3 linked regions of the Homo sapiens genome follow. The protein of the gene in region 1 purifies or fractionates together with the protein of each later gene. This does not show direct contact. Each region holds a gene or a part of one and is shown in the gene's direction. Other genes may lie near its edges. The genes, in order: RASSF8, CEP44 and PRKCI.

Region 1 (3,659 bases):
ACAGCTCCTAGAGTGGAGTATTTTGGGCTGAGACGATGGGGTTTTCCAGATATTGGATCATGTCATCTGCAAAGAAAGACAACTTGACTTCCTCTCCTCCCATTTGACTACACTTTATTTCTTTCTCTTGCCTGATTGCCCTGGCCTGAATTTCCAATACTATGTTGAATTAATGACTCAATATATGACTAAAAGTTCAAAGTGAAACAATGATAATTCAGATAGGAAAATATGTGGCAGTATGCTAAAGTCTAAAAAGGAATATAAAACGTCTGTGAGATACCTAACATCAGATTTATAGAAACAGAATAGAATGTAGGTTGTTGGGGGCTGCGGACAGGGCGAAATGGGCAGTTGCTTGTAGAAGGGGTATAAAGTTTCAGTTACACAATTATGAGTAAGTTCTAGAGATCTGCTGTCCAACATGATGCCTGTAGTTAATAATACTGTATCATGTACTTAAAAATGTGTTAAATGGATAGATCTTATGTTTTCTTCCACAATTGAAAAAAAAAAAAGTCCTATAGAATCATTTGAAATGATGGGTTTCTTGGTGGCAGGGGGGCTTTAATGAGATCTGTACCCTTTCTTGCTTGATTTCCCAAGTTTAAGATATTTTAATGAATAAGAAGGCACTTTAAATAGACTTTAATCCAGCTTTTACAAAAATTTAATAAAGCAATATATTAATCTTAGGCCATTTTTGATACCTTAATTTTATCCCAAGAAAGAATAAAACATATTCTATTTTTAGTAAGTAGAGTGCCTCGCAGAAGAGGAAACAAGTCAGAACTTTTCTGTTTTCTTAAATGTTCTCTAGATTGGGCAGCATATAAAACTCTCCTTTGAAATTTAGAGTGCACACCAGCCTATTAAAGTCTCAGAGAAGTCTAGCTGTAAAGGAACTTGTTTAACTTTATTTACTGGCTTTCTTAACATTTCTTTAACTTTGGAAGCCTTTATCCCCAGGAACTTTAACATCTCACAGGCCCTCATAACTGAGGAGCACAGTTATGGAATCAGCTTGTCATTGCCAAGGTGGCCCCTTCTTTCTTCATACAGGGGATAATGAAACCTATGCTGTGTCATATGCAGAGAGCTAAAGCAAAGTGCTAGGAGATTAATGTTCAGCCAGGCCTTTCTTGTTTTTAGGATGACAAAAAGGATTTGTGTACCTTCTCTGGAGAAAATAATTAGGTTTATTCTCCTTCCCCTTGCATGTGTTCTGACTTACCTATCCAGGTGACCAGATGGCCTAGAACTGTCTTAGGTCTTTTAAAAGAATGTGCAAGGGACTAAGCCACTGTTTGTAGTAACTACTGTTTTACAAGAAAAATTTCTAGTGTTTTTAAAATAAGCTTTTAAATAAGCCATTAATTCTGAAATACCAGTGCCACTGTAAACCTATAAACAAATCCAAATGTTCTCTTAATTAAATCAATGTTTATTATATCTCATGAATTTTAACAACAAAGACGTGGGAAGACCACAAAACAATGGACAAACAAAAAATCAGATTGATTAGAGAATTTACATAGGAAGAGTTGAGAGTTTTTTTAAACCCACAGGAAAAAGAATTGTGATCATTTTTAGCAGGCTAGTAACATTCTTATCGATACAGGAAATAAAGAATATTTGGTTTGACTATATGACAAAGTAAAAATTTCTGCTTTGCTTATAATGCAGCCAAATACAAAATCAAACACTGGGTAAACACAGCAAGTAGAACAAACGGTTAATGTTTATATTTTTTGAATAACTCTTGTAATTTAAGAAAACTATCAAACCCAGTTAAATGAGAAAAGGATAAACAGTTCACACATGAGGAAACTGTTGGTCGTCAAAGGAATTCGTTTCCTTTGACTAAGATTTTTTACCCACCTGCCCTCATGCTGTGCCTGGTGTTGGCATTTCAGCGGGAAGACACTCTTTGTCCTGTGGGGAGAGGGAGGCAAGGGACACATTTAAAACAGTTGTCAAGACATCATACATGAGAAGAGAGAATGAAATAATAAGGGAAAAAAATATTAGGAAGGCAGACAGGTAGCAGTTTTTTTGTTTGTTTGTTTGTTTTAAATCAGGAATGTGAGCTGAGTAAGATACTTTGACAACTGTTCTTAAATTTGTTAATAGTATTGGCAAAACACTGCACACTGCAAAGTGGTTCAATTTTATTGATAATTCCTAAAATGACAAACTTTTTTTCTTTAGTTTTGCCTCAGAAATTATCCTAATGAAATAATCCAAAAAGAAAAAAAACAGGACAGAAAAACAGCGCATATATTGAATAGGGCTTGGCAACTAAATAGGAATTTTTAATGTAATGGAGCATGAGTTCATGATTAAAATTATGATAAAAATAGTTGTAACATGAAACACTGTCATGATAGGTGACTGTAGTTGCATTTGTGTTGCTTAATTCATTTCTGTAAAATAAGCCTGTGTACTTCAGTAAGATTATGATATGTTAAAATTTGTTTTGTGTAATACTTACATACTTACTAGAAGAAATGTTGATTCATTTTATTACAAGTGATTTTTTGCCCTTTTTTAGCTGACTACACAGACTTAGTCTTCTCCACTCCGTGTTCCTGCAGCTAGAGACATGACCTAACACCCTGATGACCACTCTCAGGGACCTTGAGTGACTGGCCGGTGCACCATGGAACTTAAAGTATGGGTGGATGGAGTTCAGAGGATTGTTTGTGGAGTCACTGAAGTCACAACTTGCCAGGAGGTTGTCATAGCCTTAGCTCAAGCAATAGGTGAGTGAACTCTGTGGGTATCTGAGAAAAGTACATTGTGCTTTCTTTCGTTGTATGTGTTTGTTTTAAATATAGATTTCTAGGGGATTTTGTTCATTTGGTTCCATAATAAGTCTCACAGGCACTCTTGTACTTATTACAGTTTGCCTGTGTTTAGGTACATCTGTGATGATGCTTGTTCTCTGACACCCCTAGATTTTACTAACCCTGAGTTAACATCTACACTGCCTTCTCCTCTCCTGTTGTTCAGCCTAAACAGTGACTTCTGAAACTAAAGATGTTTCCATGAGCCAAAATTTAGACCCAGATTAAGAATTTAGATTCTTAGTTCCCAGAATCCCTCATTAGGAAAAATCCCACCTATTGTTTATTTCTCCATACTTTCAGAAAATACAACAAATGAAATAACATCGTTCTTCACTGGAAAGATAATGTATACTTTTAAAATCTTATGATTGGCTGGGCATGGTGGCTCACGCCTGTAATCCCAGCACTTTGGGAGGCTGAGGCAGGCAGATCACTTGAGGTCAGGAGTTCGAGACCAGCCTGGCAAACATGGTCAAACCCGTCTTTAATAAAACTACAAAAATTAGCCGGGCGTGGTGGTGCGCACCTGTAATCCCAGCTACTATGGAGGCTGAGGAAGGAGAATGGCTTCAACCCAGGAGACAGAGGTTGCAGTGAGCCAAGATCATGCCACTGCACTACAGCTTGGGTGACAGCGAAACTCGGTCTCAATAAATAAAATAAAATAAAATCTTATTATACAGTGAAAATGAAGCACAGCTCTTGGCTTCATGTTATTCTCCCACCATGTTTTACCCTTTCTTCTTATTTATTTTAAGCTTATCTTCATCATAGTTTATGTATATTTAGTTGCCTTAAATGATGAGG
Region 2 (3,659 bases), on another chromosome or scaffold:
TCTAATTAATCCAATATACAGTTTTCACTTTTCTGATTGGCACCTGATGAACATTCTAGTTAGATATTGGAGTTCATTGATTTTTAACAGTGCATGCCATATATTTTTGGGCAGTATGCCTGAAGTTATAACAATAGGATAGAAATATAAAATTAAATACGTGTTCTCTTTATATTTCTAATTTCTAATTCTGCCGGATTTCCTAAACAGAAGAGTAGTGATTTAGGAAGATTATCTTATGCAGTTATCTACATTTGCTCTTAATTGTGTTCTGGTCTTCCTAAAACATGGGAACATATGAAGAGCCTACATTAGCAGTAGTGATAGGTTATAATGATTCATTTATGTACATTATATTTCTGTAACCAAGTATGAATTATCCAATAATTGGTAGTCCCTACACGTAGAATCTGGTTTTCAGTTAATATTTTGAATATTTTCTCTTTCTTGAAAGATAATTTTTCTGCCATTATCTGCTTTGAGCAGCTGTGGCAAATTGAATCTAATGCACTTAGAGCTACAGTGTTTCTATCACTAAGGGAGACTTAAGCTAAAATATTATTTATTAATATATTTTCAGCTGTCTTCCAGCTGGAGAAGACTCTGATTGAATGATAGAATATCAGATGAATTATCAATGGTGTAATTAAGTAAAGGATGTGAATACTTTCTGACTGAAGTATAATCTAGAGTATTATTTCTGCCCTAATCCAAAATACATGAGTTATGTAAACAGAATCTATTTTAAAAATTTATTCTTGGGTCTAGCACAGTAGCTCATGCCTGTAATCCCAGCACTTTGGGAGGCCAAGGCAGGTGGATCACCTAAAGTCAGGAGTTTGAGACCAGCCTGACCAGCATGGCGAAACCCCATTTCTACTAAAAATACAAAAATTAGCTAGGCGTGGTAGCTGGTGCCTGTAACCCCAGCTACTTGAGAGACTGAGGCAGGAGAATCGCTTGAACCCTGGAGGCAGAGGTTCCAGTGAGCCGAGATTGTACTACTGCAGTCCAGGCTGGCTGACAGAGCGAGACTCCATCTCAAAAAAATATGTTTATTCCTTTATACCTTAAAAAAGTGAAATTTTATTATAAGAAAATGTTCTTATGCCACTTCTTTTTAATGTACCTGTTTTGCTCTAGGTAATGAAGACAATATAAAGAATGATACAAAGCCGCCATTTTTGAATAAGTGCATGTAGTTTTTGTACACTTGCATCTCTAACTCATCTAACTCTTGTTAGTTTTATTTATGATTTTCTAACTGTTAAATGACTTATATCTTGTATTCTTCCCCAACTAGAAGGAACATATATGAACAGGGATTTTCTTATACTGATTTTTTGTACCTTCATTTTGCTTAGCACAGGATTAGGAACACTGTGAGCACTTATTAATTATTTATTGATATAATGTGCTTTTCAATGTTCTATTTCAGTATGAGAGTTGAGGGGACAGTGTAAATTGTCCTAGCCAAGAAAAATGTAAACTTCAAAACATTAGACTTATTTTTAATTTTCTTAAAGCAAAGTTTTCTTTGTTATCTATTAAAATTTATACCAGATCTTTATCAGAAATTTGAATAAGTATTAAAAGTTCTCAGATTTAGAAAAGAGTCTACAAGTACATTTCTTTGTTTACAAGCAAAAGTTGAGTCAATATTAAAGCAAATTGTCTCCTATCCCAGTGCCTTATATAGTATGCCTATTTGCGCTTCTGAGTCACATATGTTTTTATAGTGTGTATGCAAACTGTAGAATAGGAAGCAGGTAGAGGATTTCTAGGTAAATGCATACCGTGACCTAATGCTTTTTTTGTCAGGACTTCTTCGTTGTCATTATTAGGTTTGAATTGTTAGCTGAAGGTCTAATAAATTGCAGTTTGTTTAACAGAAAAATTGTAATGAGCCCTACTCATAGAGCCAGTTTTTGATTATTTATAAGTGAATTATTTGGCAATCTTTTTTAAAAATAACTTTTTATTATGGAACATTTCAAACATTTACAAACATACCCATCATCCAGTTTCAGCAATTTATCAACTCTTTGCTAATCTTGTTTTGTCTTTATTTTAAATCAAATCTCAGACATAATTTAATAAATATTTCAGCGCTTGTCCTAAAATGTAAGAATTGTTTTAAAAGTCATAACCCCAATTTTATCATCACACATAAATTATTGGTAATGTTAGTAATGGTAATATTTTGATATATATATTATATGTGATAATTTAAACTTTTTTTAATTTTTAAAGATTGGTGTTCCTTTTGCAAAATTGCTGTATGTTTAAAATAATTGTAGGAGGATCTTCTCAGCCCAAAAGCTTCTTAAGCTGATAAGCAACTTCAGCAAAGTCTTGAGATACAAAATCAATGTGCAAAAATTGCTAGCAATCTTATCTACCAACAACAGTCAAGCTGAGAACCAAATCACAAACAAACTCCCATTCAAAATTGCCACAAAAAGAATAAAATACCTAGGAATCTAGCTAACAAGGGAGGCAAAAGATCTCTACAAGCAAAACTATAAACCATTGCTCAAAGAAATCAGAGATGACACAAACAAATGGAAAAACATTCCATGCTCATGGATAGGAAGAATCAATATTGTTAAAATGACTGTACTGCCCAAAGCAATTTATAGATTCAATGCTACTCCCATTAAACTACCATTGACAGTCTTCAGAGAACTAAAGAAAACTACTTTAAAATTTATATGAAACCAAAAAAGACCCAAATAGCCAAGGCAATCCTAAGGAGAAAGAACAAAGCTGGAGGGATCATGCTACCCAACTTCAAACTATACTACAGGGCTACAGTAACCAAAACATCATGGTACTAGTACCAGAACAGACACATAGACCAATGGAAGAGAATAGAGAACCCAGAAATAAGACCACACACCTGCAACTATCAGATCTTCAACAAACCTGATGAAAACAAGCAATGGGGAAAGGATTCCCTAGTCAGTAAATGGTGCTTTGATAACTGGGTAGCCATATGCAGAAGATTGAAACTAGACCCTTTCCTTACACCATACACAAAAATCAACTCAAGATGGATTAGAGACTTAAATGTAAAACCCAAAACTATAAAAACCCTGGAAGACAACCTAGGCAGTACCATTCAGGACATAGGTGTCGGCAATGATTTCATGACGAAGACGCCAAAGGCAATTCCAACAAAAGCAAAAGTTGATAAATGGGATCTAATTGAACTAAAGAGCTTCTACACAGCAAAAGAAACTATCAGCAAAGTAAACAGACACCCTCCGGAGTGGGAGAAAATTTTTGCAAACTTGTATCTGACAAAGGCCTAATATCTAGCATCCATAAAGAACTTAAACAAATTTACAAGAAAAAAACAACCTAATTAAAAAGTGGACAAAGGATATGAACATCTACTTCTGAAGAGAAGGTATACATGCAGCCAATAATCACATGAAAAAAACTCAACATCACTGATCATTAGAAAAATGCAAATCATAACCACAATGAGATACCATGTCACGCTTCTCAGAATGACTATTATTAAAAAGTCTAAAAATAACAGATGCTCGTGAGTTTGTGGAAGAAAAGGAACATTTATACACTGTTGGTGGGAGTGTAAGTTAGTTCAACCACCGTGGAAGACAGTGTGGCAATTCCTCAAAGACCTAAAG
Region 3 (3,759 bases), on another chromosome or scaffold:
ATAAAATTTAACAAGTACTGCTTTCTCTTCCAGTAGGAATTACCTCCCTTCCTTGAAGGAAGGGACTGTATCCTCTGTAACTTTGTGCTTCTTAGTATGGCATAATACATTTATGTATTAAATATTTGATAGCACTACTCACTGTATATTAAAGTAGAAGCCCAGTGTAACAAAATGCCAACCTCTCCCCTCTCTGTGACCCATGATCTCCCTGCGGTGTTCTCTCCTCATTCCAGGTCTCTCAGTGTACTTGTTCCTATTGCCTTTTCCTTTTGGCTAACTTCTTCTGGGCTACACTATCTAACATCTGGCTGTTGAGGTGACTACTAAATTGAATGCTAATTCAAACCTGGATGTTCACCTGTAACTAGGAATGTTGTTCTGGTCAAAAGTTAAGATTAACTGGAATGGTGACAACTGGTGTCTTTTTTATTCGCAGTCCTCAGTTTTGAACTCCTTTTTGGCTCTAAACTTGCTTGTGGGATTATCGGGGTTTTTTAAATTTTCAGTACTCCATTCTTGATTCGTCTAGAAAATCTGGGGGATTAATCTAAAAATTTATAGATTTCCTTTCAGTACAATTAGCCTAATTACTTGATTTTTAATCTTATTTTACCATTTAAAGGTTGAAGAAATCTTGATTATGATGAAAATAAATTTATTTTTCTTTCAACAGTGACATTGTGAGGAAGATTGATCAGTCTGAATTTGAAGGTTTTGAGTATATCAATCCTCTTTTGATGTCTGCAGAAGAATGTGTCTGATCCTCATTTTTCAACCATGTATTCTACTCATGTTGCCATTTAATGCATGGATAAACTTGCTGCAAGCCTGGATACAATTAACCATTTTATATTTGCCACCTACAAAAAAACACCCAATATCTTCTCTTGTAGACTATATGAATCAATTATTACATCTGTTTTACTATGAAAAAAAAATTAATACTACTAGCTTCCAGACAATCATGTCAAAATTTAGTTGAACTGGTTTTTCAGTTTTTAAAAGGCCTACAGATGAGTAATGAAGTTATCTTTTTTGTTTAAAAAAAAAAAAAACACTGCATTAAAAAAGTATCTGTTGCATTAAGGCACATAGTGGGATTACATCATAAACCTCCCATAATTTTTGTCATTCTGTGTTAAATCATTTCAGGGTTTAATTTTGAAATAAAAGATTAATATAAAATGCAACAACTTTTTATATTACCTATTAGTTTTGGAGTTCTTTATGTTTAAAAATTCAGGTGTAAATTTTATTGCCTTGGATAAATAAATTATTGATCTTTTTTAAGGCAGCAGTTATTAAATTGGTAATAGAAGATGCTGCTTGCTTAGAATTGGGAAATTCGGCTGGGTGCAGTGACTCAATGCCTGTGATCCCAGTACTTTGGGAGGTTGAGGCGGGCAGATCACTTGAGGTCAGGAGTTTGAGATTGGCCTGGTCAACATGGTGAAATCCTGTCTCTACTAAAAATACAAAAATTAGCTGGGCATGGTGGCACATACCTGTAATCCCAGCTACTCGGGAGGCTGAAACAGGAGAATCGCTTGAACCCAGGAGATGGAGTTGGCAGTGAGCCAAGATTAGCCTGGGCAACAGTGAGTGAGACTCGGTCTCAAACAAAAACCAAATTGGGAAATTCTTCTTGAGTTAAAAAAGACACTTTTTATTATGAATCAGATTCCAAATCATTAACTATTTTTGCAAAACTGGCACAAGTGGTTTTTCTTTTTAAGTATATTAACAGGGTAGCTCCTGAGCCTTTCCCTTTATTGGAAACTTTAACTGCAGTGTTAATATATACACTGCAAAAGACCAAGGATGCAGTTGAATGGAAAATTACTCAGTGTATAGAAAGGAAAAAAACCAGAAATTTAAAATAGATACAGAAAAGTACACTGGTAATATTTTTATTTCCTATTGGAGAGTGAATCCCCACAGTTGCTTTTTGTGACTTGATTCAAATGAGGCACTCATTATTGTTACCAAACTTGTAAAAGCATTCCATGTATTCAGTGGAGGCAGAATGTATAATATTTTTTCCTTATAATTTAGCATACAGGAAAAGTATTTATTTTTTAAGTAGGGTATCTTAATTATGCTCATTTCTTCCCCTAAACCACATTATCTATATGATTGGACCCTTTAGTGAAATCAGAAAAATAAAGTAGGCATGAATAAATGTTCAGGACACACACATACACTCACACACATCACAGTATCAGCTCTTTCAGTGAGTTTTTATTAACTAGATAACACATGTAATACATAGTAGAATACATTTCAGAGGCAGAGTTCCTCGGATTATTTTTTATGGATATTAGTGTTCAGCAGCTTATTATTTAAAGGGGTGCCAAATATAGCATCCTTCTGTTGTTTATTTTAAATATATTTTTAATGAAAAGGGACTTAAAAAGTAAACATGATTATCTAAATTACTTAAAATTTTTTAATCTTAGTAAAAATTTTAGGAAAGTTATCTAGTTTAAATTTCAAATGTTTTAAAATTTGTAGGCATTTAATAAATTATCTTTTTTTGGAGGGGTGGATGCTGCATTTCATTGGAAATGTCATTTTTCCAAAGTTTCTAGCTATATACTCTCTTTCCTTCAAATAACATAAGTCTGAAAGCAATGAAAACGTCAAAGGAAAATGTTTATATACATCCACATGTTTATTTAATATGTTTCTCTTAACACCTGAAACTTGTTTTAAAACAAAAAGCAGTATTCACTTCAAATCATAAACTTAGAATTCTGTATCTCATGTCAGAAATATGTTTATGGCCTTGCTTTTAAGTGGTGCTGTTTCCCATAGGGCATTAGTTCTCAGATTTTGGAATGTGAAATAATCACCTAGGAAGTTGGTTTAAAATGCACACTAGTGAGCCCACCTTAGACTTCTTTTGGGGCCTTCGACCTCACTTTGAGAAATACCTTCTTCAGGTTATTCTTTATGTTTGTCCTGTGGTTAAATATTAGAGTATTCATGATAAAACATTTTGAGAAGGGGTAAGCAGTGAGTTATTACCCACAATTTAAAGCAAATTTTGAATGAATCTTTAAGTTAGGTATCTACCTTCCCACCAGCCCCCCAAAAAACCTCTCAGTAGTTTCTTTCAGTGTACAAAATGATGAGCATTTTTCTATGATGAGGTTTTAACCATTATTCAGGGTGGTCTTTTGTTTTTAAATCTTTTTTTAACTAATAAGATTTACGGTGTGTATTTTATACAGAAATGCATTATAAATGTTTTTAATTGTGTTCTGTTTTTTGCAGTCTTTAAGTGCCATGCCAATTGTTCTTATATTCTATAGAAGTTCGCTCAAAATACTCAACAGGGGAATAGGCAGCGGACAGTCAGAATGGTTGGAATTTTGGCTTTCTAAGAAAAACTTTATTTTGCATAAGCATGTGGTCAGATCATTTTGTGCATATGCAGCCTGGATTGGATGTTAAGTAAATGCTTGTTCAGTGCCGGTACATTTACTTAAATCTGTTTTTATTTTTGTCATGTAGAATACTACTGTGGTCATCATAATGTAATCTATTTCTGTACCTTTTTTTTTTTTTTTTACTTTGAAGTCTTTAAATAAAATGTATAATACCCATTGAGAGTGGATCATTTTTCATATGTAGTATGTCAGAAATTTGTATAAGAACAAAGATGCATCAAAATTTGTTCAAGAAAAAGTGAAAATTTCAGAGTTTGGAATTTTGCTGTACTTAAAGCACCATTCTGGTAGAACTGATGCT

The links.
Region 2: the proteins of RASSF8 (region 1) and CEP44 purify together in Homo sapiens (co-immunoprecipitation; 2 studies listed by BioGRID and IntAct, with this or other methods). This does not show direct contact.
Region 3: the proteins of RASSF8 (region 1) and PRKCI purify together in Homo sapiens (affinity purification with mass spectrometry; 4 studies listed by BioGRID and IntAct, with this or other methods). This does not show direct contact.

The regions. Positions count from the first base shown.
Region 1 is NC_000012.12:26,052,682-26,056,340, forward strand, and holds part of RASSF8 (ras association domain-containing protein 8), read left to right. Parts: exon of another isoform or gene 1-315; intron 316-2,554; 5' UTR 2,555-2,662; coding exon 2,663-2,765; intron 2,766-3,659.
Region 2 is NC_000004.12:174,304,411-174,308,069, forward strand, and holds part of CEP44 (centrosomal protein of 44 kDa), read left to right. Parts: intron 1-3,659. UniProt on the Homo sapiens protein: Centriole-enriched microtubule-binding protein involved in centriole biogenesis. In collaboration with CEP295 and POC1B, is required for the centriole-to-centrosome conversion by ensuring the formation of bona fide centriole wall.
Region 3 is NC_000003.12:170,302,364-170,306,122, forward strand, and holds the end of PRKCI (protein kinase C iota type), read left to right. Parts: intron 1-676; coding exon 677-764; 3' UTR 765-3,614; downstream 3,615-3,759.